4 linked regions of the Homo sapiens genome follow. The protein of the gene in region 3 interacts with the protein of the main gene of each other region in a biochemical or structural test. Each region holds a gene or a part of one and is shown on either strand. Other genes may lie near its edges.

Region 1 (7,293 bases), on a different chromosome or scaffold from region 3:
CTTGCAGAAGGACATGATGGTCCTACACAGTAAGGAATGGATTACCTACAATATTAATAGCAGCCTCCCATACACACTTTTGACACCCTTCCCTAAAGGATTAATATGCTCCAACCTTCCTGTCCCCACAGTTCAGTGGCTCTCCCTACCCTCACCATGATCGGATGAAAAAAAATAAGGTTTCACAGCTTAAGAGTGAAATTCTGGAATCCAACTACAAGCTCATAACTGTAGCATGGAACCTGGTAGTAGCATAATAAATAAATTTTTAGTAAGAGGCTTAAGAAATTTTAGCAAAAAAAGCACTCCCTTTCTTCCTCCCTACATATCTCATATGTTTTTCAACACAAAAAATTCTGTGATTTTAGAGAAACTTCTTACAGTACTTTTAAGTTCAAAACCAGATGCTCATTACAGTTCTTTTAAACACCAAACTAGTCATCTCAAAAATATGGCTAACTCTCTGGACTAAATTCCATAGGAAAAATTATTAATTTCAAAATGCCTAATTTTGATCAAATGCCTGAAAGAGCCAAAGGCAATCATGTCCTGCTTCTCACTCAGGGCAGAGTTCCATGAGGTCAGAAAAGCTCCAATGATATCCGGAGGTCTGTCAGAGATTAAAATATCATCCTAACAATTCACAAGCTACTTCTAAGTGTTACCCTAAATTAGTCACTAATCGTTTCTCCCCCAACACTATTTCACAAATTAAAGTTTACAGAATTGACAAAAAACCAAACCAAATGAAAACAAACCCCAGGCTATTTGCAGGGGGGGGGAAAGAGATACCCCAAAAGTCAACCCTATTTCACAGTAGTTAAAAGAGTGATCCAACAGATATTACCCTCCATAAAGTACCCTAAAGGCAGGAGCAATCTTTCCCCTACACTATCTAAATTTTCCCAACTCACCCAAAAGAATCTTAAGATGTAACTTCATCACTCAACTTGCCAATTAGCAAATAGCGGCCCCCACATCCCTTTTGGCCAATTTTCTAGATGCCTGACCTAGCAGACAGACCTGTTTTCCTCCTGCCAGGCCTTTTTTGCCCTCCCGCTAGGAGCCTGGGAAATCCCCCTCCAACCTTTTGCTGGCCTGTCACCAGAAGTTCATAAAATGAATTCATCCAGATTCTCTGAATCCTCCTTTTCCCCAGTCATGTGCCAACAGCCAGGCAATAATGCCCCACCGTGACAGGCTCCCTGTTACAAAAAGATGCAGATTCACGGGAAGACCAAGCACTTAGCATGGAGCAGAAGAAAAAAAGATGGAGGGAGGCGAGAGTCGCGGAGCCAAGCCTGCTGCATGCAGTACGGGTGACCACAGCCCGGGTCCTGCAAAGCCCCCGCGAGACTCGCCGGCTGGGCCCTCCGTACAGCAGCCACACCTGTCTATGCCAGCCGCCTGCCGGCTGCTCCATTTTAAACATTTCAAACAGATCTCCAGCAGGGTGGCAAAACTGGGCACCTCTCTCTCCCAGCAAGAGTGAGAGCCCTAATCCAGGCATCACTTGCCCCTGATTTTATTTCATTTTCACACACTCTGTTTAGGAGACACTGCTTGCTCCAACTGGCTCCATCTCTCCGTTACCGGTGAGGCAGGCACAGTGCTGCAGTGGCAGAATGGAAGTACCCAGGCTGACTTGCTCTCAGCCAGACACGACCTCTTCTCTGAGGAGGGTGATGCCAATAAATGGAACTCCAATAGGTAGGCTTCGCTCTGCCCTTCCACAAGTGAACACACGCCGTGAGTCCCTAAATCGCCAGGCTCCGCAGCCTCGCAGAAAGCCTAGTTTCCAGACGGTAGGTATCCCATTTATCCCTTGGCATCGGGAACCAAAGGGAATGCAGACAGATCCCGGTCGTGCACTACATTCCCAAACCTTGGCACGCACGCGAAGGCTTGGGGCGCCCCGGCGCGCCCTCCCTCCGAGGCCTCCACCACCCGCGGACTCACCACTATGCGAGCTGAACCACCTGGGTGCGATGTGCAGAGGTAGAGCATCCGCCAGCGAGGCTCGGGAGCCCAGGTACAGCATCCCGTCTCTATGGTGACCGCCGCCCGTCTCCTGGTAACCATTGCCATGGGCATAGGTGGAGTCGGACGCAGACCCTCCGCCGCCGGGCGCCCTCTCGGAGTCGCCGGTGCCCCGGGAGGCGGGGGTGTAGAGGCCAAAGGGCACCCCCCCGGCCGTGCTGGGGTCCATGCCCATGCCTGCCACCGAGCTGACCGAGCGGCTGCGCAGCCCCATGGCCCCGCCGCCCGTCCGGTAGTGCCCGAAATGGGGCGCCCCTCCCGGCGGCGGCACGGCGCTGTCATCGGTGGAGACCCCCGGGAAGGGGCCCCGGGAGCGGGCCGCCGTGCTCTGCTTGCCCCCCATGCTCGCCCGGGCCCCGGTGGGGCGGGAACCTGGAGGCCGAGACCCTCCCCCACTTCTCAGCAGCAGGGGGAGGGCTGGGCGAGCATAAAGGGGGAGGGAGTCAAAAAGGAGACCCGGAGGGAGAAAAGGAAAAAAAGCAAAAGGAAAAAAGGAAAAAACCCGCGGGGCGGAAGAGGCAGGCGGGCGGGCGGGGATCCCAAACTCAGAATTTCAAACGATCCAAGGCAAACGCATGTTTCCCCTCAAGGTCCAAAGAGGCGCAGTCCGGCGCGGGCTCCGCGCGCCACAGGCCGCCCCCGGGCTCCGAAAGCCGGGGGAGCCGCAGGGAAGGAGGGAGGGAGGCGGCGGCGAGCGGCGGGCGGGCGCGGGGAGGCGCCGGAGGAGGCCGCCCGCCCCGCGGGAGGAGGCGGAGGAGGGCCGGGGGCGCCGGGCGCGTCCCCCGCCTCAGGACGCCGCGACCATGGACGGCGGCCCGGACCCCTCCAGGCCTCGGGCGGGCCGCGGCGCTGGGCGGCCAGGCGCAGCTCGGGAAGCCGCGGTCGCGTCGCGTCGCGCTCTCGCTTCAGCCGCCGCCGGCCCCGCCAGCCGCGCCGCCCCGCTCGGTCCCGGGCTGCGCTCGCCGGCGCTCCTCGCCGCCGTGGAGACAATGGAGGGCGGCAGAGCGCAGGCGCGGCCCGCGCCCCCTCCCCCTCCCCCCGCCGGGTTAACCCTTTCGCGGTCCCTGCGGCGCCTGGGCCGCTGACGCCCCAGCAGTCCCCACCCACCGCCCGCCCCCGGCCGGCCTGTGACCTGGGCGGCCTGACCACTGGGCGTTAGCCACAGAAACCAGATGTCTTTCAAAAGCAAACACTTCTTAAGTCCCCGAAAGTGGCAAATTATTCAGGGGGAACCAAGTATGGGGGAGGGGCAGCAATGGTTCGAGGGGGTGGGAAGGAAACACCGGGAAGAAGGAGATTTACTCCTTACGCCTACCTGGCTCTGAGGGTCACCGGTCGAGCTCCCCTCCTGGCACAAATTTGCCCCCACAGCACCCTCTGGTGGACGTGATGTCCATTCTTTCGGGGGTTCCCCATCCAAGCACCCCTCACGTCCGGAATCTCAACATTTGGCGGGGTTTAGTTATTTGGGGGTAAACAGCGCCATGGGGACACTTGTGAATCCGGCGTTTTGCTGACACTAGATCATAACTTCCTATTTTGGGCTTAAGCAAATGAGTAGATTCCTTAGCTAAAATGTAATTTTCAGAATCAATAGATGTACCATAAAAAGTGAATAGATATGGGTATGGAAATAGAACAACGCAGCTAGAAGTGATTATAGAAACCTTCTGTCCAAGGCTGGAGCCCTGTTTTGTTTACCATGTGCTGTGTTTCGGCCCTCACCACGGGCCAAGGACACGGTGGGTACTCAATAGGTGTATTGTTGACCAAGCCTGAATCATTTGCAAGGGAGTGTTCCTTTGCTACCTCAAGCCGTCTTTCTCCTATATTCACATTCATTTATTGAACAACTGTTTTTTTTGTTTTGTTTTGTTTTTGTTTTTGAGACGTAATCTCGCCCTGTCACCCAGGCTGGAGTGGTGTGGCGTAACCTCGGCTCACCGCAACCTCCGCCTCCCGGATTCAAGTGATTCTCCTGCCTCAGCCTCCCGAGTAGCTGGGATTACAGGCACATGCCACACTGCACCTGGCTAATTTTTTGTATTTTTAGTAGAGGCGGGGTTTCACCGTATTGGCCAGGCTGGTCTTGAACTCCTGACCTCAGGTAATCCACCTGCCTTGGCCTCCCAAAGTGTTAGGATTACAGGCATGAGCCACCGCGCCCGCCCTGTTTTTCTTTTTCTTTTTTTTCTTTTCTTTTTTTTTTTTTTTGAGACGGAGCCTTGCTCCTCCCAGGCTGGACAACCTCCGCCTTCCAGGTTCAAGTGATTCTTCTGCCTCAGCCTCCCGAGTAAAAGTCTGTTAAAAATTTCAAAATCAGGCCGGGCACGGTGGCTCATGCTTGTAATTCCAGCACTGTGGGAGGCTGGGGGTGGGGGGGTGGGGGGAGATGGGGCAGGGGATCACCTGAGGTTAGGAGTTTGCAACCAGCCTGACCAACATGGTGAAACCTCATTTCTACTAAAAAAAAATGAAAATAAAAAATAAATAAATTAGCCAGGTGTGGTAGCTCACGCCTGTGATCCCAGCTACTTGGGTAGCTGAGGCAGGAGAATGGCTTGAACCCGCGAGACAGAGGTTGCAATGGGCTGAGATCGCGTCACTGCACTCCAGACTGGGCAACAGAACGAGACTGTCTCAAAATATACATATGATATATATATATGTGTATATACATACATATATAGTAGAGATGGGAGTTTCCCCATGTTGTCCAGGCCGGTACTCCTGGCCTCAAGCAGTCCTCCCACTTCGGCTTCACAAAGTGCTGGGATTACATCATGAGCCACTGTGACTGCTGAACAACTATTTATCAAGTGCTAGGTGCTGGCTGTGAGTATCACACAGTCCCTGGCTTAGCTGACTTCCACCTATTAAATGACCCCAGATACTTCTAAACTGGGGGACCAAAACAGGATGTTCAGAAATATTAAAAGAAAACCAAAAAGAGCAAGGCTAGCCCGTCACAGGTATTGATTGTTCCATTGTGGCCAGCCTGGAAACAGGAGGAAACCTATTTGCAAGCATGAAATACCTGGAGGTGAGCAAACAGCCCTGTAGAAGTAAGAATTTTTGCAAGAGAAGTAAAAATAGGAAGAAACAAAATGTGCCAACATCTAATAAATTATCTGTAGGTGCCTATATGAGTATGTGTATACCTAAAGAGGAAAAACAAGAAAGCTTAAATTTAATCCCATTTCCTCCTAGAAGAAAGACTATGGTATCAGAAGAGTGGTTCAGTACTATACTAAAAAAAAAAAAGGTATTAGACCCCGTGGAAGATCCCTATTAGAGAGATAAATACATGATACCCATTGTAACTATCCAAACAGCTTTTGATTTATCCATTCACTGAACAGTTTTTTAGTGTATTTAACACAATATTTAGTATGTAATAAATTCCAGGCACTGTAGTAGGTTCTGGGATACAGTACTGAACCAGAACCAGACAGATGGAGTCCCTGTTCTCATAGAACATCAGAAGAAACACTTCCCACCCACTTGAATGGCTATGATCAAAGAGAAGGGCAATAGTAAGTATTGATGAGAGGTGGAGAAATTGGAACCCTTGTACCTTGCTGGTGGAAATGTAAAATGGTGCAGCTGCTTTGGAAAACAGCCTGACAGTTCCTCAAAAAGATTAAATGTGGAGTTACATGACCCAGCAATTCTGCTCCTACCTAGGTAGAGTTCCAAGAGAAAGCAAAACATATGTCTGCAGAAAAATGTGTACGTAAATGTTCATAGCAGCATTATTCAAAAGAGCTAAAAAGTGGAAACAACCCAAATGCTCATCAACTGATGAAGAGGTAAACCAAATGTGGTGTATCTATACAATGAAATATTATTCAGCCATGAAAAGGAATAAAGTACTGATTCATATTACAACATGGATGAATCTTGTAAAAGCATATTAACTAAAAGAAGCCAGCCATAAAAGACTATGTATTGTATGATTTCACTTATATGAAATGTCCAGAATAGGCAAATCCATTGAGACAGATTGATTAGTGGTTGCCATGGCCTGGGGGGAGGGGAGAATGGAAAATGACTAATAATAGGTCTCTTTCTATTTTTTCTTTTTTTCCTTTTTTTTTTTTTTGAGACGGAGTCTTGCTCTGTTACCCAAGCTGGGGCACAGTGGCATGATCTCGGCTCACTGCAACCCCTACCTCCACCTCCCAGGTTCAAGTGATTCTTCTGCCTCAGCCTCCCAAGTAGCTGGGATTACAGGCATGCGCCACCATGCCACGCTAAATTTTTTTTTTTTTTAAGACGGTGTCTTGATCTGTTCTCACCCAGGCTGGAGTGCAGTGGTGCAATCTTCACTGCAACCTCCGCCTCCCGGGTTCAAGCGATTCTCCAGCCTCAGCCTCCTGAGTAGTTGGGATTACAGGCGCGCGCCACCACACCCGGCTAATTTTTGTATTTTTAGTAGAGATGGGGTTTCACCATGTTTGGTCAGGCTTGTATCAAATTCCTGACCTCGTGATTCATCCGCCTTGGCCTCCCAAAGTGCTGGGATTACAGGCATGAGCCACTGTGCCTGGCCACTAATTATTTTTTGAGACAAGTCTTGCTCTGTCGCCCAGGCTGGAGTGCATTGGCATGAACTTGGCTCACTGCAACCTCTACCTCATGGGTTCAAGTGATTCTCCTGCCTCAGCCTCCCTAGTAGCTCGGATAACAGGCACGTGGCATCATAACCAGCTAATTTTTGTATTTTTAGTAGAGACGGGGTTTCACCATGTTGGCCAGGCTGGTCTTGAACTCCTGACCTCAGATGATCCACCTGCCTCAGCCTCCCAGAGTGGCTGGGATTACAGGCTTGAGCCACTGCACCTAGCCTCTTTCTGTTATGTATTTATTTGTTATTTATTATTTTTTAATTGTGTGGTTACAAAGTGGTGTCTTTCTGTTTTATGCATTTACTTATTTAGAGACAGAGTCTCACTCTGTCACCCAGGCTGGAGTGCAGTGGTATGATCTCAGCTCACTGCAACCTCTGCCTCCGGGTTCAAACAATTCTCACGCCTCAGCCTCCTGAGTAGCTGGGATTACAGGTATGTGCCACCATGCCTAGCTAATTTTTTTTTTTCTTTTTTGTAGAGATGAGGTTTCACTATGTTGGCCAGGCTGGTCTTGAACTCCTGGCCTCAAGCGATCCACCCGCCTTGGCCTCTCAAAGTGCTGGGATTACAGCCATGAGCCACCACACCTGGCCTTGTTTTTTTAAATCACATTTTTTGG
Region 2 (5,411 bases), on a different chromosome or scaffold from region 3:
AAACACTTATTTTAAAACTTTCTACAAGAAAAATCTGTGATTTTTAACTTAGTTCTTGTATTTCTTCAAACGAAGGGAGAAAGATAATTTTGAAAAGAACTATTACATATTGTTAAAAATTATTGCTTTCAGTCACAGTGAGAGGGAACCAAAAATTAATAGACACCATAATGAGGCCGGGCATGGTGGCTCACACCTATAATCCTAGCACTTTGGGAGGTAAAGTGGGCAGATCGCCTGAGCCCAGGGCTTCGGGATCCGCCTGGGCAACATAGTGAAACCCTGTCTCTACCAAAAATACAAAAAATAACCAGGGCGTGGTGGTGCGTGACTGTAGTCCCAGCTACTCAGGAGGCTGAGGTGGAAGGATGAACCCTGGAGATGGAGGTTGCAGTGAGCCGAGATCGTGCCATTGCACTCCAGCTTGGGTGACAGAGACAAACCCTGTCTCAAAACAAACAAACAAACAAACAAACAAACAAACAAAAAAGCCCAACACCATAATGGATTACCCCTTACATGCTAGAAATGAGTGAAGCTATTCAAAAAACTCGTTTAACTTTTAAAAAACTACATCAGCTAATTTTATTATAATTATTTTTTACAATTAATAAACTGATTCCCACATAATTCAGTTTGTTTGATAAAGACTAATATGTAGCAACACTAGAATTACAATAAAATCCTAAATATATGTGTGTATTATATATAGAAGGCAGAATTGAAGTCATTTTGACAGTAGTATCTGAGATCTAAAAAATGAGAATTTAGTAAATCCAATCCTAGTTTCCCTGAAGGCACAACCTGTTCCATGAGACATTAACAGAGTTTATGTTTTTCAATAATTTGTAGAACAAGTACTTATTAGATCAAGACACTTAGATAGATGCTTTATACTTCAGGAATTTATTTTTTCACAATGATCCAAAGTATTAGATGAAGGTTTTTTGTTTTATTTTGCTTTTAATTGACAAATAATAAATATACATATTTATGTGGTACAGTGTGATGTTTTGATACATGTATACATTGCGTAATAACCGAACCAGGGTAATTAGCATATCCATCACCTCAAATATGTGTCATTTCTTTGTGTTGAGAACTTTCAAAATCCTCTCTTCTAGCTATTTCAAAATATATGCAATAGGTTATTGTTAACTCTAGTCACCCTACTATGCAATAAAACATTAGCACTTATTTAATGTGAAGTTTTTAATACAAAAATTATTTTAAGAAAATAAGCACAGGCTGGGCGCCGTGGCTCACGCCTGTAATCCCAGCACTTTGGGAGGCCGAGGCGGGTGGATCACCTGAGGTCAGAGGTTCTAGACGAGCCTAACCAACATGGGGAAACCCCGTCTCTACTGAAAATACAAATTTAGCCAGGGGTGGTGGTGGGCACCTGTAATCCCAGCTACTTGGGAGGCTGAGGCAGGAGAATTGCTTGAATCTGAGAGGTGGAGGTTGCAGTGAACCGAGATCGTGCCATTGCACTCCAGCCTGGGGAACAAGAGCAAAACTTCATCTCAAAAAAAAAAAAAAAGAAAAAAGAAAAGAAAAGGAAATAAGCACAGCCATTTAAGTATGTTATTCACAGTTACACTGCTGGTATATGGAGAGACAGGAGTTGAACTGAGATCCTCTAGATACAAAACCTCTATACTTAAGAGTATACCATTTATGATATTTTCTCTTTAACTCACAAATAAGGGCATCGAGGGTAAACTGACACAGGGCTAAGGACTCATTCATTGGTGAACAATTATCACACGATGATATAGAAAGGCTGTTGAAAAGCTTTTCTTCATCTTCTTAGTCAGTGTCAGAGGCAATTGGGTGATAAATATCTGGCAGAAGTAATACCTAAATAGCGGTCTCATTTTATGAGGTATAGGTCAGTTTTCCTTAGGAGTACGGAAAATGATGAAAAAAATTGCTATCAAATGTCAATAAAATATTGGGGACAATATGGCACAAGGCAATTATTACATTTTACTGATGAGTGAAGGACGTTCAAATAGAAAGAAGGGAGACAGCAAGGAAAAGATGGTTAAAATGATGCAAATGAGTTCAGGTGTATGAGATGCACCTGGACAAGAGGTGCTGTACAGAAGGGGCTGAGTGTGTAAGAAGGTTCAAGAGCTTGGTGAGCACAGAGTCATGGGGACTCCACATTTTCTAGGATTTAAATATGGAAATACAGGCTGAGAAAAAGAACAGTGAGAAAACTTATAGATGAGAAATCCATGGTTTGTGATATTGAAGAATGAGACAGTGCAAGCCTCATAGTCTAGGAAAACTCCAACACGATCAGGACAAATAATCACAGAGAGGGGCACAATGAAAGGAACAGAAGGAGTATGGAAGGAACTATCCTGGAAAGCACTACATTTAACTCCTTCCTCTAACCCTATAACCCAGTAGCCGTATTTAGGTTGATAATTTTCATTTTTTTCAATATTACACATTGCATCAGGTTGGAAGCCAGCACATACCCCCAGGATCCAAGCAGTTTTCTTGGACACGTCTACCTCCCAGTAATGTTTCCCTGATGTGATACTTTGAGAGCCCAGGATGCCAGTACAATAATTGAAATTCACAAATGTCTGGTATCTTGTCCCTCGTGCCCCATATATTATCTGTGGTTTCGGAGAGCTCACTTGTCTCTTATCTTCAGAAATGACAGCACATGAAATGTTGTTTGGAGCCACTGTCACATCAACTGTAGAAAAATTAACAGGTCAGCTAAGGGATATAATGTAACTTTATTTGTGATATGAGAGAAATCTTGATAAAGACTTGAGAGAAAACTGGGAGGAACCTTGTTTAGAAGTTATAAGGAGGGGTAAGTTATGTGTGTCTTGGAAGGAGAATCATAAATCTTAAAACATGAGCCTAATAGAGAACATAAAATTCTAAAAGATAAAGATAATAATAATGATAAGCCGCAGGGTGGCTTATGATAATGTGACTTCTCCTTACCCCAGTAGCGTCGGACATCTGTCAGCTCTGAAATGATAAAAATGCACAATATTGAATACAAACAAAGGAGTCAGCACTGAAATTCATTTTCTCTCCAGATTAGGGAAAGAGTAGGTATGCCCTATGGTAGGGCAGTAAATTGCTGAATGATGAGATGAAACAGCCACCTAGCCATTTCCCATTAAATATAATCCCATCAGCAGCAGACAATATCTATCCTCCCCTATCCCCTCTATCCATATTTGGAAACTGCACCCTCTTCCCTATTTAGCACCCTAACACCACTTGAATTCCATAACCCTGTTGTTGATCTAGCTCTCCTCACCTCTAAACACTTCTAGCATTCCTTTCAGATCAGGAGCTCGAAACACTCTCCTTTGATTTTTTGGAAAAGTTTCTGGCTTCTTCAAGGTCACGTTCTCCGTCCTAAGAATTAAAAAAAAAAAAAAAAACTTCCAAACCTTTGACCTTGTGTCCGTGGAACACCCCTGACTTCCTATCATTTCAACCCATTGAGGCACTTGAACTCTCTTCTTGGGGATCCTGAGAAGGGAGAGTGCAAACTCTTGACCCTGGAGGCAAACAAAATGTTCTCATGTTTGCCTTCCCACTTACTTTCTGTGAGAACGTGGGAAGATCTTAACCTCTCAGAAGCACAGTTTCTTCCTTCTAAAATGAAATAATTAACCTCTCCCTGTCTACATTCTTAAACTCATAGGACATAAAAAAAAAAAAAAGGATTTTAAAACAAAACAAAACAAAACTTTGGTGCCTTACAAAAGAAACCCTAACATTTAATGGGTGGAAACATCATCGCTATGTATGTTGAGTTCCCAGGGAGATGGTTAGAAAGTGAGGTTGCAGAACCTGGCTCCTGGGTGTTTGACACATATCAAGAGAGGAATCCTGTTTGGAGAGGCCTAAGACCTTCAAAGCTATTCCCAGCAGGGAGGTACTCAGATAACATCTAAGGTTTCAGATTTCCGGGAAAAATTACAAACACTTGGCAAATGAGAAATTATGTGCACTAAACTATTACTGGCCTGAATATCGTGTGGTTAGAAAGAACTTGATACCACCACGTAGGTGTGCGAGGTGTGCGATTTTAGACACAAGAATAGCACCTTTTTATGCTCTTGTAAAGAATGCAACTGAGGTGGATCAATTCTTTGTACCATGACCACATATTATCCAGAATATTATTTTGAAATATTATTCCGGAAATAAACATCTGATTTTGGAAATCTAAATATAAATGAAGAGGAACTGGTCTTTTTCCAGGAGGAAAATATAAACATGTGGGAATTGTCCCAATGGACAATTAGGGGTATATAAGAGAAAAAGAAGATATGGCCCATCCAAAATAAATCAAGAACCTATTAAATACAGAAAGAGAACTAGATGTAGGTAATAAAATGGTGATGGCGCAGGGGTCCAACACTGCAACACCTTCTCCCTGAAACCACTACTGACCCACACTCCGAGTCTCCACCACCCAAATTTTCTACCATAGAATCTGGTCTATTCCTTTTCTTTTTTTTAATTTTATTTAATTTTATTGATTTTTCTAAGACAGAGTCTCACTTTGTCGCCCAGACTGGAGTGCAGTGGCATGGTCTTGGCTCACTGCAACCTCTGCCTCCTGGATTCAAGCAATTCTCCTGCCTCAGCCTCCCGAATAGCTGGGATTACAGGCACGGGCCACCACGCCCCCCTAATTTTTGTATTTTTTTGATAGAGACAGGGTTTTGCCACGTTGGCCAGGCTAGTCTCAAACTCCTGATCTTCCTGACTCGGCGTCCCAAAGTGCTGGGATTATAGGCTTGAGCCACCACACCTGGCCAAATCTGGTCTATTCTTAATAGTTATAGAACATTCGAATGCTGATTTATGACCAGAAATTTATGATAAAACAATATCGAAATTTTTCTGCCCTGGGAGATGTTTTATTCTAATTAAACCCAGGACAATTCTAATGGCTATAAATCTCTCCTCACTGCACAAAAGGACCATCTCTGTCCTCCCACACATACCTTTTTATGACGCCATCCACACCCTAGGAAGAAGAGAGAAAACATCAATTAAGAAAGAAAGAGTCTCTCCTCACTTATAAAGCTTCATCACATTTCCCCCGGTTCCTAATGTGCTGAGAATGGAGATGGTGACAGTGTGAAAGACAAAAAAGCAAAGATAAGACTCAAGGCAATCATCCCAGAAGACTCATGTGAGATTTCCAAGTTCCCTTAAAAGTAGAAATAGCTTTCATCCCTGTGGAAGAGGCTCCTGGTTTCTGCAGATGGGACATGTTTAGAAGGAAAAGAAGTGACTGACAATTTGTTTTTCTCCAAACGTATATGGCTCTCCATGAAATGATTTAAATAATTAGTGCTTCTTTGATTTATTAAACAGATGTACAGCCTAGGCAACAT
Region 3 (7,031 bases):
CTTCAAGTTTAAAAACACTTCCTCGGCTGGGCGCGGTGGCTCCTGCCTGTAATCCCAGCACTCTGGGAGGCTGAGGCGGGCGGATCACGAGGTCAGGAGTTTGAGACCAGCCTGACCAACATGGTGAAACCCTGTCTCTACTAAAAATACCAAAATTAGCCGGGTGTGGTGGCGTGCACCTGTAATCCCAGCTACTCAGGAGGCTGAGGCAGGAGAATTGCTTGAACCCGGGAGGCAGAGGTTGCAGTGAGCCAAGTCACGTCACTGCATTCCAGCCTGGGCCACAGAAATTTGTTTCATGACTGTGTTTTCCATTACACAGGGATGCCTTTCTTGTTCACCTGGCTTACTGGTAAATGCATATTATGCATTCAATGAATGTCCAATTAATTGAACTGAAAAAAAATCTCATGAATGGATAATAAAGAGACACGCAAATCACAAGGTTACAGAAAACTGAAATTTGGCCTTGGGATCGGCCTATGTTACTAAAACCACTTTGTCCCTGCCTCATAGTAAGATGGTAATCTAGTTGTCTTTAAGAGTCACAAAAAAAAAAAAACAAAACAAAACAGCTACTTACTAACATTTTCCCGAGTATAAGCTATAATCTTAAGAAAGTTACAGAGCAATAAAAAAATCACCAATGGTTTCATGATATAAATTTGTTAGTTCTTTCTAGTGTTTCCTTAACTACAATGCCTTCAATCCCTAGAACTGTAAAGACTTTCAAAATATAAATTCATTTGCCCAAAATTAACCAAACTGACAGAGACATAATGTGAAGGTATTGAAAACTAAAAAAAAAATTGAAAATCTAAAGACAACATAGCCAGTTGTTTTAATGCAAAATATGTCAACCTTAGATTCTGAAACCAGTATCTAAAATTACTTTAAATTACAGTAGAATCCTAATTATTCAGAAGCATCTCAGTTACTGGCCAATTCAAAACCAAAAATGTCTGTGCCTAAGTACTCAAGAAATTTTAGAATAGCTTCATTCAGGTTTTTTTTTTTTTTTGAGACGGAGTCTTGCTCTGTTGCCCAGGCTGGAGTGCAGTGGGGTGATCTCCGCTCACTGCAAGCTCTGCTGCTCCCGGGTTCACACCATTCTCCTGCCTCAGCCTCCCGACTAGCTGGGACTACAGGCACCCACCACCACGCCCAGCTAATTTTTTTGTATTTTTAGTAGAGACGGGGTTTCACCATGTTAGCCAGGATGGTCTCGATCTCCTGACCTTGTGATCCTCCTGCCTCGGCCTCCCAAAGTGCTGGGATTACAGGCGTGAGCCACCGCGCCTGGCCAGGATTTTTAAAAAATATAAAATGCCCCCAATGGTGTCATGTAGCCCTTGAAAGAATGAATAATAATGAAGTATTTCTGTTGATTCTGAGGGCTCTTAACCAATTATCCAGTTCTTCCAACCACACAGTCATGTTTCTGCCACAAAAGACCCTAGGGCCATCAATCACTTCACTTGGGAAGAAATTTTAAAAGCTGCTAAGATTTTAGCTGAAGTTAAAAGATTCCCTATTATTTAATTGCCTAATTGGTATATCCACATTCATTCCTTCATATATTACATTTGCAAAGAAAATTTCAACTCTAATGAAACAACAGTCCAACTCGTTTTTCGCATACACACATAAGAATTCTTTTCCTTGATATAATATTATTACATAAACTATGCCTCTCATATTTATTTTGTTTTTAGAAAGCAGCACTGTATAAGATACGAATTTGGCACCTAAATCAGAACTCTGATTACTATAATTGTAATGTCAAAAGCCCCTGCTGGATGCTGCTGTCCTCATTTCCTTGTTTCTAGTATTTATTTCTATAGCACATATGCATCCATAGTTCATTATAACAGAAAACATAATGTGTGTTCAGAATCCATACAACTTGAATCTGTAGCATATTTTCTTCTTAAATCCATTTACACAGGTAAACTATCCTATAAGGTATAGGGAAAAAAGAAGAAGAACCGAATTGTACATCAGGAATCTGGTCATCCAACTTCTTTGGCCTACAAATTCCTCACCAGAGAAAGAAAAGGATAGAACAGATGTTCTCTAATGTGTAAAACTCTGGTGGCTCACTCCCGTAGTCCCAGCACTTTAGGAGGCCGAGGTGGGTGGATCACGAGGTCAGGAGATTGAAACCATCCTGGCCAACATGGTGAAACCCGTCTCTACTAAAAATAAAAAAAAATTAGCTGGGTGTGGTGGCGCGTGCCTGTAATTCCAGCTACTCGGGAGGCTGAGGCAGGAGAATCGCTTGAACCTGGGAGGTGGAGATTGCAGTTAGCCGAGTTCGTGCCACTGCACTCCAGCCTGGCGACAGAGCGAGACTCCGTCTCAACAAAAAAAAACTCTGGTTTTAAGAGTGGTCATTAACACGTGTGGAAAAAATTCCAAACTTGAGCAAAGCAAATGCATAACATTTCCAGTCACAGTCATTTAGCACAGTGAATACTAAAGTACTTGATAATTTGACAAAACTTAATTTCACTTGTGCAGGAGTTGATCAATCTGGACTAAAGGAACTGCTTGACACAGAGGAGCTTAAAAAAGAATACTGAACTGACTGCTATTTTTAACTTACTTTCAGTTATGCTCACATTTCATAATCAAAACATTAGATAGTATATTAAAACAGTATCTTTAGAGCCTGAAAGTTTAATCACTATCAAAAGCAGTTCAAGGATTCTTAACATGGAGCACATGGAGACCTAGGGAATCCACAAATAAACTTGGCAAGAATCTGAATCCCCAGAAGTCATACGTTAAAAAAAATAGCTTTTTTTCCTAGGAAGAGGTCAGAAAATTCTTAAGTGAGACAACTGAAAGAACTAAAGAACCACTGTTCCTAGTCAAATTTTTTACAAGTTTTTTCTTAAATTCCAAAGGTGATTTTAATTACAACTTATAACAAATCTGTCTTCATCATAATGAGTTTGTATTTATTTATTTATTTATTTATTTATTTAAGAGACAGGGTCTTGCCTCTATTACCCAGGCTGGGGTGCAGTGGTGCCACTAATAGCTCACTGCAGCCCCGGCCTCCTGGATTCAAGGGATCTTCCTGCCTCAGTCTTCTGTTAGGATTACTGCATGAACCACCATACCTGGCTAAGTTTCCCTGCCCCCACCTGGAGGTACATATATTTCTGAAACATCATGGTAACTTTTCCATGCCTTTTTTTAATTGGAAGAAAACATTATCAGACAAGTATTTTCAGAGCTTAAAACAACAGATAGGACAGGCGCGGTGACTCACACCTGTAGTTCCAGCACTTTGGGAGGCCGAGGTGGGCAGATCACCAAAGGTCAGGAGTTCGAGACCAGCCTGACCAACATGGTGAAACCCTGCCTCTACTAAAAATACAAAAATCAGCTGGGCGTGGTGGCATACACCTGTAATCCCAGCTACTAGGGAGGCTGAGGCAGGAGAATTGCTTGAACCCAGGGGGCAGAGGTTGCAGTTAGCCGAGATCACGCCATTGCACTCCAGCCTGGGCAACAAAAGCAAAACTTCATCTCAAAATAAGAAAAAAAAAATGTTCAAGGCAGAGAGTAAAGCTACTCCAGTGGCTGAGGCAGGAGAACTGCTTGAACCTGGGAGGCAGAGGTTGTAGTAAGCCGAGATTGTGCCATTGCACTCCAGGCTGGGCAACAAAGCAAGACTCCCGTCTCAAATAAATAAAAGGTGAGTTTTCTAAATCACTTTTCTTACAAAAAAAAATACCTTATGCACTAGAATACCTATCAAATGAGTGGCTTTTAAACAGTAACAGGAAAAAATGTGTGTACTTCAAAAAATCCTATTAAAAAAGTAAACTCAAGTCTCAATGTAAAATCAGACTGTATCTGATTTTTAAGAATTTGAGGCTAAATCACACCAAATAGAAGAGTAAATTTTTCCACTGCACTTCAGCCTGGGTGACAGAGACCCTGTTTCAAAAAATTAATTAAATGTATTTTCTTAAGTAAATTTTTAAGCACCATAGACAAGGGACCAGTGGGGAAGGGAGACATAAAGTAAATTCTGCGAAAGACTGGTAAAATTCTAATTCCAGCAGGTTGACTCACTAGGTTTTAATCAAATAAGTCAACCCCTAGGGTAAGTTAACTACTTTTTCCCAAGACTGTATTTTATCATTTTCATTATTATCATTATTACTATTTTGAGACAGGGTTTCACTCTGTCGCCCAGGCTGGAGTGCAGTGGCGCGATCTAGGCTCACTGCAGCCTCAACTTCCTGGGCCAAACCAATCCTCCCACCTGTCTCCTGAGTAGCTGGGACTACAGATGTGTGCCACAACACCTGGCTAATTTTCATTTTATCTTTTTGTAGAGACAAGGTCTCATTATGTTGTACAGCCCAGTCTTGAAACCTTGGGCTCAGGGGATCCTCCCGCCTCAGCCTCCCAAAGTACTGAGATTATAGGCATGAGCCACAGTGCTCAGCCCTCATGATTAATTCTGAAAAGACCATTAAAGGAATGTCAGTCACTGTATCAACGTAACATGTAAAGCTGAAACAGATTTGGTTTTGACCAAGGCCATAACTATAGATCTCACTTATCGGTTCCCGAAAGTGATTCTCCTTTATGACAGGATTATGCAGAACCTCTCATTTGAGGGACATTTTAGGTACCTCCTAACCTTTATGACTTTAAGCTTTAACTGCTCACTTTTTTTTTTTTGGTGGAGATGGAGATCTCACTATGTTCCTCAGGCTGGTCTCAACTCCTGGCTTCAAGCAATCCTTGGGCCTCAGTCTCCCAAAGAGCTGTTATTACAGGTGTGAACCACCATGCCCAGCTTCAGTCACTTTTATTGGCTAAAAGAGCTTTGGTCCAGAAGATAAGGCAGAAAAACGAAACTAAAGATTCTAGCTTAAAACAGAACTACTAAGACTCAATATCACTCACACTTGTGCAAAATGCCATACATACAAAACTTCGTTACAGCATTTTTTATATAGCACAATTTAGGAAACATTCTGAAAGTTATGAATAAGCAATTAGTTACAATAAAGTCTAGGCCAGGCACGGTGGTTCATGCCTGTTAACCCTAGCACTTTGGGAGGCCGAGGTGGAAGAATCACTTGAGCCTAGGAGCTCGAGAACAGCCTAGGCAACATGGCAAGACCCCATCTCTACTGAAAAAGTATTAAATTTCCAATATTTGAAAAAATAAAATAAAGTCTAACCATAAGGTTCCATTAAACAGCCCTTTGAGAAAAAAAAAAGAGCCAAAGCAGAACACTATGATGCATGTCTGTAATCCCAGATACTGGAGGCTGAAGGTAGAGATCACCTGATATTAGGAATTCGAGGCTGTATGTATATAGTGTACTATGATCACGCCTGTGAAAAGCCACTGCACTCCAGCCTGGGCAACAAAGCAGCAGTCTGTCTCTTAAAAAAAAAAAAAAGTCAACTTGAAGATACATAGGTGGTTAGAGGGGAAGAGAAGGGAATCAAGGTATTTGCATGAGAAGGAGAAGACGCCTAACTTATAGCAGAAAGTTGCTCTGGTCTTCTTGTAAGGATACACAATAAAAATAGTGGTTGAAGTCGGGTGCAGTGGCTCACACCTGTAATCCTAGCACTTTGGGAGGCTGAGGCAGGTGGATCACTTGAGAAGAGGAGTTTGAGACCAGCATGGCCAACATGGTGAAACCCCATCTCTACTAAAAATTAGCCAGGTGTGGTGGCACATGCCTGCAGTCTCAGCTACTTAAGAGACTGAGGCAGGAGAATCACTTGAACCTGGGAGGTGGAGTTTGCAGTGAGCCAAAATTGCACCACTGCACTCCAGCCTGGGCAACAGGGGGAGACTCCGTCTCAACAAACAAACAAACAAACAAAAACAGTGGTTTTCTAAGCAGGGGAACTGGAATGCTGAAGGACAGATGAGGGATTCTCTACGTATCCTTCAGAGCCTTTCAAATGTGCTCTATGTGTGCATTTCCTAGTTAATAAAAAAAGATACATAAGCAGAGTAGGCACACAAAAAAGAAATAATGTAAAAGATTGATGTCCTTTTTAAGTGAGCTTATGGGTGGAAAACGAGACTAGCTTTAACTTTTAGCTCAGACATTGGTTCAGACAGAATATACCAAGGAGTAACAATGTCAAATTATTGCTCATTGAGATTAAGGCTCATCTATTCAGTTAGTCTATTAATATTTCAGTATCTACTATGTGCCAAGGATTGGTCTAGGCACGAATGAGCAATGCCCGGGATATCCAAGAGTCCCTAACTTCATGAAGGTTTAATGGGGAATAGAGAGAAATAAACAGTAAATAACATAACTTCGAACAGTAATAAGCACTTATACAGAAGAAAGGGAGATAGGAGGATAAAATTGTGGGGGAGGAAAAAGGGAAACTGGTTTATACGGGACAGGTTAGGTAGAGGGTATGACATATGAGCTAAGAACGGAACAACTGGACAAAGCAAGCAATGCAACAAACTGGAGGAAAGTCCTGTGACTGGAATAAGCTCAACCACTTATTGTTCAGGGTACAGCAAAGCAACAGTGTGGCTACAGTGGAGTGACCCAGAGAGAGAAGTGCAGATGCGCTCAGAAGTAGGCATCCCAAATGAATGCAGGGCCTTATAGCTAAGGGGTGGGGGGGAAGGCAAGATTCTAATGTAAGTGTGATGGAGAACCTCTACAGTTTTTAGCAGGGGAGTAACATGGTCTATATTTTAAGAAGATAACACTAGCTGCTGCTCCAAAGTAGGCTAATACAGGAGGCCAGGCAGTAAATGATGGAAGTGAACAGAGGTTTGAAAGACAGGGGGGAAAGTGTCTGATTTAGTACATATATTGAAAGCAGAACCTACAGAATTTGCTACTGGATTAGATACAGGAATCTAAATGAGATAGCAACTGGGTGAATAGTAGTCCAGAAAATCATCTTGTATTTGTAGTTAGTCATTTTACAGTAACAAGAGACAGGGGAATGTTACACTAATCAAGATCCAAATTCTGCCTCTTACCAGCTTT
Region 4 (7,031 bases), on a different chromosome or scaffold from region 3:
CTTGAACTCCTGGCCGTAAGCAATCCTCCCACCTCAGCCTCCTTCCGAGTAGCTGGGACTACAGGTGTGTGCCACCATGCCCAGCTAATTTTTAATCTTTCTTTTTTTTTTTTTTTTTTTTGTAGAGACAGTCTCCCCATGTTGCCTACGCTGGTCGCTAATTCCTGACCTCAAGTGATCCTCCCACCTTGGCCTCTCCAAGTGCTGAGATTACAAGCGTGAGCTACCATGCCTGGCCCAGAATTTATTTTAACATACAGATAACTGTTTGAATATTGAAAAAATATATTTAGCTCTGCCTAAAGTTTGAGAAGAGTTTGCTTTCTACAGCAATTTCTAGACAGGATTGAACATTATTTTACATCAAAAAGGTTTACTAAACAGATGAGTAAAAACCAAATGTCACTGTCAGAATAAACACTTTTCATTCTTTCAGCCCAAAACCGGAGATCAAAATTCAGACCACAATAAACTGAAGGCAAATACAAAGAAAGCTGCTCTTCTGACCACCAACTTTGAGTTGCTGATGCTTTAATTGCACACATTAAAGTTTGAGAGGGCAATGGATTTCACTCCTCAAATCACTTCCAGACAAGAAGCTATTAGTTTCATGATAGCCCTCTGGCACTGCCACTTCCTCCACACCTCACATGTTGTTAGATTGCAGATATGGATAGGTCACTGACATGTCACTACAATTAGTTTTATTTGAATTCATCTGAAAAGGAAAACAGGTACATGTGTATTCATTCTAACTGCTAAGGAATCTAGACAGAAATGATCTTTCATTTTCTTTCAAACAGCTATCTGCTTACACCAAAACTCCATCTAGATTGAAGCCTTGGGTGTAAGGAGAGAAAACAGAGAAGTAGTATAATGTGTAATTTTGTAGTGTTGGTATAAGGTGAATCTTTTAAAGTAGGATATCAATATCAGAAACTGAAGAAAAAGATTAACTGACCTGAAACAACAAACTACAACCCACCATAAGCAAGATTACCAGGAAAAAAACCAAGGGTAAAATGTGAGTACCTGAGGTAGAGTCACTACCATTAATGAGCATAGATTTACTTATTGATCTGTAAGAGAAAGTTGGCCCAAAAGATGAACTCAAAGAAATATTAATTGCCAATTAAATAAGAAGCTGATTTGTTTAGCTAATATTTAAAAAAGCAAATTAGAGATCTATTTCTACTTAGGAGAAGCACAAACATTTAAGATTAAGTCTTTAAAACAGCATGTCATTGTTGCAGAGACAAGACCAAAGAGCCATTTGTCCATAGTAGCATGATTTCATCAGATACTGAAAGTAAAATTACTTGAATTTAAATGCCATTTACATCAATGCCAAAAAGAGAACTAATGTCCACACTACCCGGAGATCTCCACCAAGAAACAGAAAAAAATCAAAGTAACCACCATTCAACATGCTTTATCAAGCTGCCAATCCAATAAGAAACGGCCCAAACTAAGACTCTTCAACTTCTTAAAACAAGTAATTTTAATCACATAAAAAAGGAGAAGCAAAAAAGCACAATCATGAAAGAAAAAACTGACACATTTGGACTTTTATTAAAAATACAGCCTGGGAGGCCGGGTACAGTGGCTCATGCCTGCAATCCCAACACTCTGGGAGGCCGAGGTGGGCAAATCACCTGAGGTCAGGAGTTCAAGACCAGACTGGCCAACATGATGAAACCCTGTCTCTACTAAAAATACAAAAATTAGCTGGGCGTGGTGGCTCATGCCTGTAATCCCAGCTACTCAGGAGGCTGAGGCAGGAGAACTGCTTGAACACAGGAGGTAGAAGTTGCAGTGAGCTGAGAACCAAGATCACGTCACTGCCCTCCAGCCTGGGTGACAAAGCAAGAATGCCTCAAAAAAAACAACCTGGGCAACATGATGAGACCGTGTCTATACAAAAAATACAAAAATTAGCTGGGCGTGGTGGTACCCACCTGTAGTCTCACCTACTCAGGAGGATCACTTGAGCTCAACAGGCAGAGGCTGCAGTGAGCAGAGATCGCACCACTGCACCCCAGCCTGGCTGACAGAGTGAAACCCTTTCTCAAAAAAATAAATAAAAAACAGCCTTGTGAAAGACACAGATAAGAGAACAAAAATACAAGGCACGGATTGGGAGAAAATATTTGCAAAACATGTGTGACAGATGACCTGCATCCAAAATATACAAAGAACTCTTAAAACTCAAAACTCAAAAAAAAAAAGAGCAAAAGATTTCAACAGGTGCCTCAAAGACGATACACAGATGGCAAATAAACACATAAAAAGATGTTCAAGGCCGGGCGCAGTGGCTCACGCCTATAATCCCAGCACTTTGGGAGGCCGAGGCAGGTGGATCACAAGGTCAAGAGATCAAGACCATCCTGGCCAACATGGCGAAACCCCATCTCTACTAAAAGTACAAAAATTAGCTGGGCATGGTGGCACGTGCCTGTAGTCCCAGCTACTCAGGAGTCTGAGGCAGGAGAATCGCTTGAACCCAAGAGGCGGAGGTTGCAGTGAGCCAAAATCGCACCACTACACTCTAGCCTGGTGACAGAGCGAGACTCCGTCTCAAAAAAAAAAAGAGACGTTCAACATCAAATGTCATTAGGAAACTAGAAATCAAAACAATGAGATACCACCACATGCCGATTAGAATAACTAAAATGCAAAACAAGAGGCCAGGTATAGTGGCTCACTCCTGTAATCCCAATATTTTGGGAGGCATGAATTACTTGAGACCAGGATTTCGAAACCGACCTGGGCAACAAGGCAAAACCTTGTCTCTACAAAAAAATACAAAAATTAGCCAGGCACGAGAGCACATGCCTGTAGTCCTAGCTACTTGGGAGGCTGAGATGGGAGGATTGCTTGAGCCAGGGAGTTTGAGGTGGGTGATCATGCCATTGCACTCCAGTCTGGGCGACAGTGAGACCTTGTCTCAAAACAAACAAACAAAAATCCAAAACACTGACATCAAATGTTGGCAACTATGAGAAGCAAGAGGACCTCAATTCATTGGTTCCGATACCACATTACCGTTGTATAATGGTATCAGAATTGTTAACCAGCTGCCCCACGGAAACCAACTTTATCAATTAGAGTGCTTATGTGCACTTCCTTTGGCCTTTGTCTTATAGACTCCACTCATCTCCAAAGCTGCTTGGATCAACACTTTACCCTCATGCCCTTTAGTAAGGTGATTTCCTACATTTGTAATGCAATGTAAAATATAATGTAAAAATCACTTTGGAAGACTGACAGTTCCTCACAAAGCAAAATATAGTCTTACCGTATGAGCTGGCAATAGCACTCCTATATATGTGCCCAACTAATTTGAAGACTTGTTTCGCAAAAACCTGCATGCAAATGTTGACAGCCAAAACATGATAACTGCCAAAAACCAGAAGCAGCCAAGATACCCTTCAGTAGACGAATAAACTGAGGTACTTCCATATAATGAAATAATGGAATATGATTTTGTGATAAACAGAAATGAACAAGCTCTCATGCCTCCAAAAATACACAGATGAATCTTCAATGCATATTGCTAAGTGGAAGAAGCCCACCTAAAAAAGCTACATACTGTTATGATTCCAATTACATGATATTCTGGAAAAGGCAATAGAGACAGTAAACAGATCAGTGGTTGCCAGAGATGGAAGGGTTGGAAGGGATGAGTAGTTGAGACACAGGATTTTTTTTTTCTTAAGAGCAGCGAAACTATTCTCTATATCATAATGGTGGATACATGGCATTGTGTATTTGTCGAAATTCATAGAACTTTACAGCAAACACACAAAAATCAATCTCAGGATATGAAAATGTAAATGATTCCATCCTGGGCATGCAGATTGTGACAAAAAAATCTCATTGCATTACAAATGTAGGAAACCACCTTACTAAAGGGCATGAGGGTAAAGTGTTGATCCAAGCAGCTTTGGAAATGAGTGGAATCTATAAGACAAAGGCCAAAGGAAGTGCACATAAGCACTCTAATTGATAAAGTTGGTTCCCACGTGGCAGCTGGTTAACAATTCTGATACCATTATACATGTATATTGGAATTGAATAAGTAAAAGGATGGTGGGCGGTGAAATCCAGGTTTCACACTTTTGGAGTGGGAGTTTACAGGTAAACAGGAGGAAGTTAGAATGAAACGTGGTAATGGATTCAAGTTGAAGACATCAGTATGAATTCATGGTATGCTTAATGAAGAGATAGATGGATAAATCTATACACAGATTACTATCCACATATATTCCCTTGCTGTGTCAGCTGAAAGCCTAAAAGTAGTGACACCATAGTAGCAATGAGTACACCAAGTGCCCAGAGCTTGGTTTCTAATAACATTCTCCAAGAAAAGGAAACAGGGCTCCTTGGAGAAGTGGTTCGATTCTAGGACTGGAGCAGGAAATATACACGATGAGGCCTGAGCATCTTGTATCAGAAAGTAAGGAAGTACAAGGCCAGGCGTGGTGGCTCACACCTGTAATCCTAGCACTTTGGGAGGCTGAGGCGGGCAGATTACCTGAGGTCAGGGGTTAGAGACCAGCCTGGCCAACATGGCAAAACCCCATCTCTACTAAAAATACAAAAATGAGCCGGGTGTGGTGGTGCATGCCTGTTAATCCTAGCTACTCAGGAGGCTGAGGCAGGAGAATCGCTTGAACCCAGGAGGTGAAGGCTGCAGTGAGCCAAGATTATGCCACTGCACTCCAGCCTGGGCGACAGAGTGAGATTCCATCTCAAAAAAAGAAAAAAAAAAAAAGGAAGTGTAAAAACAAACCAAAAAAAAACCACACACACGCAAGACAAAACTGCAATGATTTTCCCAGGAACCTGGTAAAACAAAAAGAGCAGGCCGGGCACGGTGGCTCATGCCTGTAATCCCAGCACTTTGGGAGGCTGAGGTGGGTGGATCACAAGGTCAGGAGTTCAAGACCAGCCTGGCCAATATGGTGAAACCCCGTCTCTACTAAAAATACAAAAATTAGCCAGGTGTGGTGGTGGGTGCCTGTACTTCCAGCTACTTGGGAGGCTGAGGCAGAAGAATCGCTTCAACCTGGGAGGCTGAGGTTGCAGTGAGCCAAGATAGCGCCACTGCACTCCAGCCTGGGCGACAGAGTGAGACTCCGTCTCAAAAAGAAAAAAAAAAAAAAAGAAAGAAAAAAAGTTCCCAGTGGCCAAAGTTGCAATGATCTGAACCACAAAATAAAGTATTGCATTATAGCTCAAGAGATAAAATAAATACCCAGGAGTCTACATCTTTAAATAAATAAATGATTAAATAAATAAGGGAGAACAGCCTTATCTCTGGCACAGAATTCCAGATAATTTATGGCAATACTCCATCCACTCTCTACTCCTTAAGTGTGGGCTATTCATAGTAACTTCCTTTGAAGAAATACAGCACGGAAAGGGGAAAAAATAGTAACTTTACAGTGGAGAAACCAGACAAACACTCTCTGAGTCAGAAGATCAAGCTGACATCCACAGTTAAAAGTCATAAGAGTTTACATCCCTGGTATGTGATAAGAATGCACTTTACCTCTGATCTCCCTCTCAAAAACCCATAAGCCCAATTTAATCATGAGAAAAACTAAGAAAATCTGAATAAAATGTGGACTTGAGTTAATAGTTATATATCAATATTGGTTCATTGAATGTGACAAATGTGCCATATTAATGCAAGATGTTAGTAGGAGAATTAGTAGGAAATTCAGTGTGGGGTATATGGGAACTCTCTGTACTGCCTTCACAATTTCTGTAAATCTAAAACTATCCTAGCCAGGTACAATGGTGTGCACCTGTAGTCCCAGCTACTCGGGAGGCTGAGGTGGAGAATCACTTGAGTCCAGCCTGGGCAACATAACAAGACCCTGTCCCTTTAAAAAAAATAAAATAAAATAAAAATTATTCTAAAATAAAACATCTATTAAAGAAAATGAGGGTGACTATCTATATACATTATATACATTTCCATAGAAAACAGCTGTGCAAACTAGGCACAAAAGCAGATACAACATTCTACCTGGTTCTAGACTTTATCTGTACATATGGTACAACTAAGCTATTTTGATTTTTCCACTTCAAATATTTGATATTAAGCTATCCTTACGTCAAGACAAAACCCACTCTACTATGATGAAAGGTACATTGCTATGGAGGACAGGTATAAAGGAAACACAATTAGCCTGGACAATAAATGAACACTTACAGTAGCAGTTCTCTGCTCATCAAACTTTGAAAGTTTCTGAAGTTCTCTATAAACTGTTCCAAGTGGTGCATATTCCAGAATTAGGTAGACTCTGGTAGCATCATGGAAATAACCATACAGTCTAAGAATATTAGGATGCCTGCAACAAAGGATAAACATTCTAACACTTGGTTTGGAGCTCACAGAAGACTATGTACAAAATGTCAAACAAACTCTTCATGTAAAACCAGTGGTGTTTCACATGAAACCACACTCCAAACCCCACTTTAGAATCTGAAACTATAAACCCACTCCAAGAAAAATACATACACCCACATATCATTTTAAAAGCACTTCACAGTATTAATGGACCTCTGGTTTAGTTAAGACTATTTCCTTCCTTTAGGCACCTTTATTCTTAGGAGGAAAATTCAGCTGAATATTAATTATCTACATATTAAAAAAAGGACATGGCCGGGCACAGTGGCTCACGCCTGTAATCCCAGCACTTTGGGAGGCCGAGGCGGGAGGATCGCGAGGTCAGGAGTTCAAGACCAGCCTGGCCAACATGGTGAAACCTCGTCTCTACTAAAAATACAAAAATTAGCTAGGCTTGTTGGTGCATGCCTGCAATCCTAGCTACTCAGGAGGCTGAGGCAGGAGAATCGCTTTAACCTGGGAGGCAGAGGTTGCAGTGAGCTGAGATTGCGCCACTGCACTCCAGTCTGGGCAACAGAGCGAGACTCCATCTCAAAAAAAAAAAGGAAAAAAAAAAAGGACATGGCATTGCCACAGTAGTTTGACACCCAGACACTGTGACAGATAA

The links.
Region 1: the proteins of UBE2N (region 3) and ZNRF1 form a complex in vitro, tested with the Homo sapiens proteins (3 studies listed by BioGRID, with this or other methods).
Region 2: the proteins of UBE2N (region 3) and TRIM5 form a complex in vitro, tested with the Homo sapiens proteins (2 studies listed by BioGRID, with this or other methods).
Region 4: the proteins of UBE2N (region 3) and AURKA form a complex in vitro, tested with the Homo sapiens proteins (3 studies listed by BioGRID, with this or other methods).

What each region holds. Positions count from the first base shown.
Region 1 is NC_000016.10:74,994,762-75,002,054, reverse strand, and holds the start of ZNRF1 (E3 ubiquitin-protein ligase ZNRF1), read right to left. Parts: upstream 3,032-7,293; 5' UTR 2,384-3,031; coding exon 1,960-2,383; intron 1-1,959. UniProt on the Homo sapiens protein: E3 ubiquitin-protein ligase that plays a role in different processes including cell differentiation, receptor recycling or regulation of inflammation. Mediates the ubiquitination of AKT1 and GLUL, thereby playing a role in neuron cells differentiation.
Region 2 is NC_000011.10:5,662,674-5,668,084, forward strand, and holds the end of TRIM5 (tripartite motif-containing protein 5), read right to left. Parts: coding exon of another isoform or gene 5,226-5,411; exon of another isoform or gene 5,045-5,225; intron 5,039-5,044; coding exon 5,016-5,038; intron 3,409-5,015; coding exon 3,308-3,408; intron 3,010-3,307; coding exon 2,983-3,009; coding exon of another isoform or gene 2,834-2,982; exon of another isoform or gene 2,723-2,833; coding exon 2,136-2,722; 3' UTR 1,501-2,135; coding exon of another isoform or gene 1,362-1,500; 3' UTR 522-1,361; downstream 1-521.
Region 3 is NC_000012.12:93,431,928-93,438,958, forward strand, and holds part of UBE2N (ubiquitin-conjugating enzyme E2 N), read right to left. Parts: intron 1-7,031. UniProt on the Homo sapiens protein: The UBE2V1-UBE2N and UBE2V2-UBE2N heterodimers catalyze the synthesis of non-canonical 'Lys-63'-linked polyubiquitin chains. This type of polyubiquitination does not lead to protein degradation by the proteasome.
Region 4 is NC_000020.11:56,375,207-56,382,237, forward strand, and holds part of AURKA (aurora kinase A), read right to left. Parts: intron 6,366-7,031; coding exon 6,227-6,365; intron 1-6,226. UniProt on the Homo sapiens protein: Mitotic serine/threonine kinase that contributes to the regulation of cell cycle progression.